2 linked regions of the Homo sapiens genome follow. The protein of the gene in region 1 interacts with the protein of each later gene in a pairwise test. Each region holds a gene or a part of one and is shown in the gene's direction. Other genes may lie near its edges.

What was found. Proteins that work in one complex are often made in the same cells at the same time.
Region 2: the proteins of MBNL1 (region 1) and PRPF39 interact in a two-hybrid assay, tested with the Homo sapiens proteins (one large-scale study listed by BioGRID).

What each region holds. Positions count from the first base shown.
Region 1 is NC_000003.12:152,275,429-152,278,928, forward strand, and holds part of MBNL1 (muscleblind-like protein 1), read left to right. Parts: intron 1-3,500. UniProt on the Homo sapiens protein: Mediates pre-mRNA alternative splicing regulation. Acts either as activator or repressor of splicing on specific pre-mRNA targets. Inhibits cardiac troponin-T (TNNT2) pre-mRNA exon inclusion but induces insulin receptor (IR) pre-mRNA exon inclusion in muscle.
Region 2 is NC_000014.9:45,093,049-45,097,648, forward strand, and holds part of PRPF39 (pre-mRNA-processing factor 39), read left to right. Parts: intron 1-2,172; 5' UTR 2,173-2,191; coding exon 2,192-2,515; intron 2,516-3,054; coding exon 3,055-3,180; intron 3,181-3,838; coding exon 3,839-3,957; intron 3,958-4,600. UniProt on the Homo sapiens protein: Involved in pre-mRNA splicing.

The sequences.
Region 1 (3,500 bases):
GGCTGTGTGCAGTGGCTCACACCTGTAATCCCAGCACTTTGGGAGGCCGAGGCAGGCAGATCACGAGGTCAGGAGATTGAGGCCGTCTTGGCCAACATGGTGAAACCCCGTCTCTACTAAAATACAAAAAATTAGCTGGGCATGGTGGCGCATGCCTGTAATCCCAGTTACTTGGGAGCTGAGGCAGGGGGATTGCTTGAACTCGGGAGGCGGAGGTTGCAGTGAGCTGAGATCATGCCACTGCACTCCAGTCTGGCAACAGAGCAAGACTCTTGTCTCAAAAAAAAAAAAAAAAAAAAAAAAAAGGCTAATGTTTATACCAGGCAGGTAGAAAAACAAAAACGGACCTCATTAGAGGATACATGAGGTTTCTAAAAGTGGAACTCCTTTGTAAATGTAAGAAGTGATATCAATATTATTATTATTTTAATATACTTATTTTGAAGTAACTAAGTTTTTTTGTTTATTTCTTGAAAGAAACAATAGATTGGGGAAAAACCATTTACTCTTTTCATGCCCTAGTTTCTAAATCTGTGACATTATAAAGGTGTAAATATTTATGAAAATAGTAGAAGTTGCCACTGGCTGTATTCTTTTAAGTAAGGTATCTCATTTAATCTTTTCTACTGTAAAGTAGCCGTAAAGTAATAAGACTTTTACCTTAAAGATCATGACTAGAACAATTTTTTCATTTGCGGAGATATGAGGCTTGTCATTTTTATTATTCCAATGTTCATGTTTTTAACCAATTTTTCTTGTCTTGCCTCCACTGATTATATATAAAGAATAGCGATGAGAATATAGCTGTAATTATGATTACTAACATCTTTGAATACTTTCTGTGTGCTAAGCTAAGGTTTATAATTAATTCATTTATTCCTCAGAACAACCCTATGGTATAGGTACTGTTAATATTCTGATTTTACAGATAGGGGAACTGAAGCACAGACAAGTCCAATTAATTGTGCAAAGGTACTTAATTAATAAGTAGCACAATAAGGAGTTGAACCAAGGTAGCCCAGCTTTAGAATCCATGCTCCTGTGTAAAAGAATAAAAACAGATTTTAAAAATACTTATTTTGGATGCTGATAGGAGCTTGAGAACATAAACGTTTGGAATACTTTAAAAGACTTGTACTTTCTACATCATTTGAAGAGATTCCAGAAGAATGGGCAGAAAGTAAGAGGATAGAGAGAAAAGGCCTGGGGTGAGGGGTGGGAAGCATTAATAGGATAGGAAGAAATGAGGAATCAGGTGTTCAAGGGAGATTGGTGCTACACTTTTGAGGTCATTGATGACCAGCTAGTAAGTTTAATAATACGTAGTGTGGAACATAAACAGACACTTGGTGTTTAGGGTAGTAACCTTACAGGAGTTGTGTTTTGGTGACATTTTATAGGGGTAGGACACATATAGAATGAAGTAGAGATTGTGGTTATACAGAACAGAGATGAGGGACTAGATGAGGGGAGTGGCCCTAGAATGAAAAGGAGGACATGTATGCTGAGAGAAATGTGATAAGGTTAGGCTGCATAGGATGTACCAGCTGACTGGATGTGGATATTAAAGGCAATGGGGGTATTAACAATTATTTTTAAAATACAGCAAGAATTTAAAAAACTTTTAATCAATCAAAAATTCCTTATTTAAGAATTATATAAAATATCAGTAAGTGAAAAACATTTAAAATTGTATTTTATCAGGGATTATAACTTAAGTAGAAGATACATGTTAATTTCTTAAAACATTTCATTTCTGTGCTAAGCTCTTTCAAAGCACTGGATGGTGATCTAAAGGTCACCAAATTCTTTGTCCCAAATTGGTAATTTTAAAGTAAACATAATTTCAACGTTAGGCCTATTTTGTTATTTGCTGAGAAATGTCTCAATGTCAACCAGGCAGTTCTCCTCTCTTATTAAAGTCCATGCTCAGAATGCCTGTGTAACCTATCCTTAGTGATAAACAAGGTGGCAGATAGATACATGATAAAACAAGTTTGCCATGTGCTCAATGTGGCTGACATTTATACTTCTCAGACCTTGCTATTTTAGGGAAGGTATCAGTATAACCAGGGCATTCTTTTTCCTGGAACTAAAAATCCTTAATAATCAGTCACTATTATAAACAGAATGATTTACATACAGGAATCAATAAACAGTTGCTTTTGGTTAATGGTTATCTGGAGTAGGAGGATAGTTATATTTCAAATAGAATAGAAAGCTTTATTGGAATACTTACATGTCTTTTTAGTTTGAGGACCTTACAAGCTTTTTACAAATAAATGGTTTAAAATAGTTTAAACAGAAAATGTCAGAACATTGATAGATTATGTTTTATTTAATATACAGAGAAAAATTCCCATGAAATAAAGACAGTTTTCAAGAAAAATATTCTATTTATAAATATTTACAACTTATTAGTTATTTAGATTGCCCGTGTCCATAAAAATAATACAGAAATTACACTATTTATGTCTTTAAATATAGCATGTTTCTATAAACTAGAGAATAATGTTGACAGTATTTTATTTTGCCTTTGTTAGTATTATGTGAAAGTCACACTTATTACATGCCTTTTTCTATTATTAGACTTTTTTTCCTATCTAGTTTTTGCCTTGTGCTATACAGTATGGTGAAAATCTATTTAGCTATGTCATTAAGATAATGCTTAGAAAATGCTAATTTTTAAGTAACTAAGATTAAGTAGTATTGGATATTCTTTGCCTTCTTTATTATTCTGTCATTGGGCTAATTTTAACTAGACAAATTTATTCCAAAGTATTTTGAGCCATTATTTGAACTTCATTGCTGTAACATTCAGGAAAAACTGCATTGTCTACCTAGTGGCATTCAGATAAGGCATTTGGTCTTAGGTACCTCTTCCAAAAGACTTTTAAGAGGTTTGATAAGCATAGCAAAAGTGAACGACGGAGGATACAAGAAAATCTTTGATCCAGGAGTAGTCTCTCTGAAGCATTGCATGACCTTTCCAAAAAATAATTTGAGAAGTGCCTAACAATAGAAAAATATATATTTTTTCCTTCAATAGGAAAGACTTTAGAAAAAATATACTCAAGTAGAATTCTGCATAATGCTTTCTGGGGGACCACATTTGCTGAAAATTGCCTACGGGAAATGACTTTCTCAGAGTGATATAGTTTTGAGGACTGAGATTTTAAAAGTAAATATTTTATTGGGAGCAATTAATTTAGGAAGAATAGTATTATGCCTATTCCTCTGTAGTTGATTAAAGTTTACTAAGTGCTGAGGTCTTTTCCCTTAAAACATTACTTTGCCATGTTAACAATCAGGTCATAGAGGAATGAATTCATCTTTTGTGTTTTGCTAAATAATCAGTTAACAAACATATTCTGAGCACGTTTAAAGTCAAAGGATTGTAGTAGGTCACAAGAGGGAGATCGAAAGTATAATTACATAGTGTCTTTCCTTCTTTGACATACAATTGGGTTGAGGAGAAAGACTTGAAAACTTAATGCAAG
Region 2 (4,600 bases), on another chromosome or scaffold:
TTAACACCAGCTGCCAGTTTTGTATTTTATTTTATTTGGTGTAAATCCTTACAAATCTGTGAGTGCATGTGTGTATGCATATATATGTATTTAAAAAATCTATAATGGATATTTTTCTGTATCAATACAGATGTACATATTTCCTTTTTAATTCTTATTATTCCATTATATATGATTTATTTTTTTTTTTTTGAGACGGAATCTCACTGTATTGCCCAGGCTGGAGTGCAGTGGCACGATCTTGGCTCACTGCAACCTTCACCTCCCGGGTTCAAGTGATACTCCTGCCTCAGCCTCCCGAGTAGCTGGAACTACAGACGTGTGCCACCACACCCTGCTAATTTTTTGTATTTTTAGTAGAGATGGGGTTTCACCATGTTGGACAGGCTGGTCTTGAACTCCTGACCTCAGGTGGTCTACCCTCCTCGGCCTCCCAAAGTGCTGGGATTACGGGCATGAGCCACCGTGCCTGGCCGAGTATACTATTTATTAAAGCAGTCTTTTTCTTTTCTTTTTTTTTTTTTGAGACGGAGTTTCACTCTTGTTGCCCAGGCTGGAGTGCAATGGCATGATCTCGGCTCACTGTACCCTCCTCCTCCCAGGTTCAAGAGAGTCTCCTGCCTCAGCCTCCTGAGTAGCTGGGATTACAGGCATGTGCCACCACGCCCGGCTAATTTGGTATTTTTAGTAGAGACAGGGTTTCTCCTTGTTGGTGAGGCTGGTCTCGAACTCCCAACCTCAGGTGATCCGCCTGCCTCAGCCTCCCAAAGTGCTGGGATTACAGGCATGAGCCACCACGCCCGGCCAAAGCAGTCTTTTTCTTAATACACCCTCCAGTTTTGCTGTACAACAGTGCTGGTAATGAATGCCCTTAAACAAATACATGTTTTTTCTGATTATTTCCATAGTATAAAATATGTACAGTTGCTATTTGGTACACTCATTATTTTGATTTATGTCTTTATTAGTAAAGATATAGGTCTTTTTTATGTTTATTGGTCATTTGCATTTCTTCCTTTGCATTATTGTCTTTAAAGTTTTAGTCATCTTTTTAATTAACTACTATTAATATATTAAGTAGTAGTATATTCTAAGTATATTTTAAGAGTAAATCAGTTTTATGGTCTGCTTAATTTTGAGAATAATTCCTCATTTTAAAAAAAATGAGACATGCCCTATAATTTAATGATTTGGTTTCCATTTAAGCTGTTAGTGGAAGAGATGAAGGTAATTATGAAAATATAATGTGGTATTACCTTAAAGGGGTAATTGCTTATTACCTTATAGCCTTAAAAATTAGATGACATAATTTTAAGTATATTATGTAGTTATTATCCAGACTGTAAGCCTTTCTCAAATATGTTTTTTAGAGGTAGGGTCGTGCTCTGTTGCCCAGGCTGGAGTATCGTAGCAGGGTCAATGCTTACAGCAGCCTTGAACTTCTGGGCTCAGGTGATCCTCCTGCCACAGCATCTCCTGAGTAGCTGGGACTGCAGCTGTGTGCCACCATGCCTGGCCCCTTAAATGTGTTTTAAGTAACATTTATTCACTTTAAAAATTACTGTTTAATTTTTTAAAGCCATAATTTATATCTTATATAATAAAGTTGAAACCTAGCTGTCAGGATTTATAAATCGTAAGTATATAGATATATTTAAGCAATATGATTTTATCTTTTCTAAAACTTTATCCTGAGCCAAGTGATGAGCTTCCTTTTGAAATGTTTATACCCATGACCAGAATTTTTGTCAGTTTTACTTTTAGCCTCCAGAACAGTTGTTAAAGATATGCCGTTTTCCAGTGATTGATAGCAAGGTAACATTCAGGCACCGAATCAGATTCTTACCTAAATAAGAAACATTGAATTTTAAATAGTATTTCTTCATTGGGTAGCAGGCAGTGTACTTATTTGTTGTTTGAATGAGGTAACAAATCCACAGTTATTTGGTTTTCATTCAAATACCAACAACAAAATGGCAGTTTTGTGAAGAATTTATAATTTTATTTACAATATAAAAACTAATGAACCTTCTGATTCTGACTTGTAGGGGATTAAGACTCACATTAATATTTCTTTAATAGCTAAATTAGGGCTTTTTAAAAGGTGTTGTTGAGGCCAAATAATTTTATTGGCATTTGGAAGATATTTCTCTTTTTTTCGTGTTTCCACAGATCGTTAACTGAAGACAATATGCAAAATTCTCACATGGATGAATACAGAAATTCTAGTAATGGCAGCACAGGCAACAGTTCAGAGGTAGTGGTAGAACATCCTACTGATTTCAGTACTGAGATTATGAACGTTACAGAAATGGAACAGTCACCTGATGACTCTCCCAATGTGAATGCATCTACAGAAGAAACTGAAATGGCAAGTGCTGTGGACCTTCCAGTGACGCTGACAGAAACAGAAGCAAATTTCCCTCCAGAATATGAAAAATTTTGGAAAACTGTAGAAAATAATCCTCAGGATTTTACAGGCTGGGTATATTTGCTTCAATATGTAGAACAGGAGGTTAGTAACTATTAAAATGGTATCAGAAGGGACAAATTAATCAAGTCATTAATTTATAATGAAACAGTAGACCTTATTGTTTATGATTAAAATTGACTCATAATTTTCAAATGAAGTTGAATAACATTAGGTAGCTACATTTTTAGCTTTGAAAATAGCTTACAGCTTTTGTATGTTGTAGAGAGTCAGTAGTGTCAAAGCTTAATGTTTTGTAATAATTGAGGTGTAAATGTGTGTGTAAAATTGCTGAAATAAAAAGTTGGCAAAATTAGTTCCTTCTGTTTCAATTGCGTTTAGAAGAAAAAGGGGGCTGCTGCCTGTGTAGGTTTTTTTTTTTTTTTTTTTTAAGTGAAAGCAAGTTTATTAAGAAAGTAAAGGAATAAAAGAAGGGCTGCTCCATCGGCAGAGCAGCCTGCATGTGGAGTTTTTAAGCCTGCCATTTATTATTATTTTTTTAGATAATAACGTTTGAAAGGAATAATAAATATTTTTTTGACAGAAATTTCCACAATATTTAAATACTGTTTTATTTTTATCAGAATCACTTGATGGCTGCCAGGAAGGCATTTGACAGATTTTTCATACACTATCCGTATTGCTATGGTTACTGGAAAAAGTATGCAGACCTTGAAAAGCGGCACGACAACATTAAACCATCAGATGAGGTGCGTACATCACTGAATAAACTTATCTCCAATAGGTACTGTAAGCCAATTAATAACAAAACAAAGATTTTTTTTTTTTTTTTTTTTTGGCTGGCAGTACCTACCATTTATGGTCAAACAATTTTTATAGGGTATTTATTTGCATTTGTCACTCTTGTGGCATTTGTAGCTAATATTTTCTCTCTTTGTTGGCAGGTGCGTTAAACCTCTACAGTTTGTCAAGCTTTGCAGTGCAAGCCTCTGTATTACACTGCAGCTTAACAAGTAGGGCAGGGCTTTTCTCTCACTTACATTTATTTCTCATTTTCCAAACAATATAGTTGGTTTGCTAGTCACATTTGCTACGTCTTATTGCATTTTTGGTCAGACGCTGTCATTGATGCTCTAATGGGTCTGTGCCCTATGGTCTGTAACCCAAAGCCTGCCCACACAACCCGGTCAGAATGCAGGGACTGCTGCGCTTTGAAGATCAAGACTCTGCACGTGGGGATCAGAACATTGCCATGTTCTATCCAACCTCCACCCAAATGGTAATGGTAGATTATTTAAACAAAATTCCAGTAATTAGTATTTCTAAGGTTCACCGGATAACACAGTGTTGCCTCTCTGTTAAGAAATAATTAAATATTTGAAGTACAGTTTGCTGTTTTCTTCTTAGGTTTATCGGCGGGGGCTTCAGGCAATACCTCTTAGTGTTGACCTTTGGATACATTATATAAACTTCTTAAAAGAAACATTGGACCCTGGTGATCCTGAGACAAACAATACAATAAGAGGGTATGTGGAACATTGATACTGAAATGTTTTTTATGATATAAATAATTATTCTGATGTTGATAATAGAGCTCATGAAAGCTAAGCTGGAAGTTTAACTTCTATTCCATTGTTAAAAAAATGATACATGTAATAAACTTAAGCTTTATGATTTGAAAATGCAGATAATAAAGCCCTCCTACAGTCCATGCCTCTTATGTCCCCAATTCCACTCCTCAAGGTTAATAGCTTGGTGTGTGTTCTTTCAGATATATGTATAAGTACATGTTTATGCGTATGCTTTCATACTGCTCTTTGACTTTTTTTTTTTAATAATGTTTGGGAATCTCTTCCTGCCATATTTTTTAACAATTACAAAAAGTATTTTATAATACTTTATAAAAAGTATCTTATAAGCCAAAGTACTCTATTTCACCAAATCCTTATTTATAGGAAATAATCAGTGCTACAGTGAACATCTCTGTACAAGTCAATATTTTTTGTAGAATGCACTAGAAATGGAACTTCTGTCAAAGGGAACACACAGCTCAGTTTTATCAAATGTTCCTTCAAAAATGGTATCGATTCTAAACTCCCACAGTGTATGAAAATAATCATTTTCCCACAGCTGTGCCACATTTTTTGTTTGTTTTACCTCCAGTGGCAT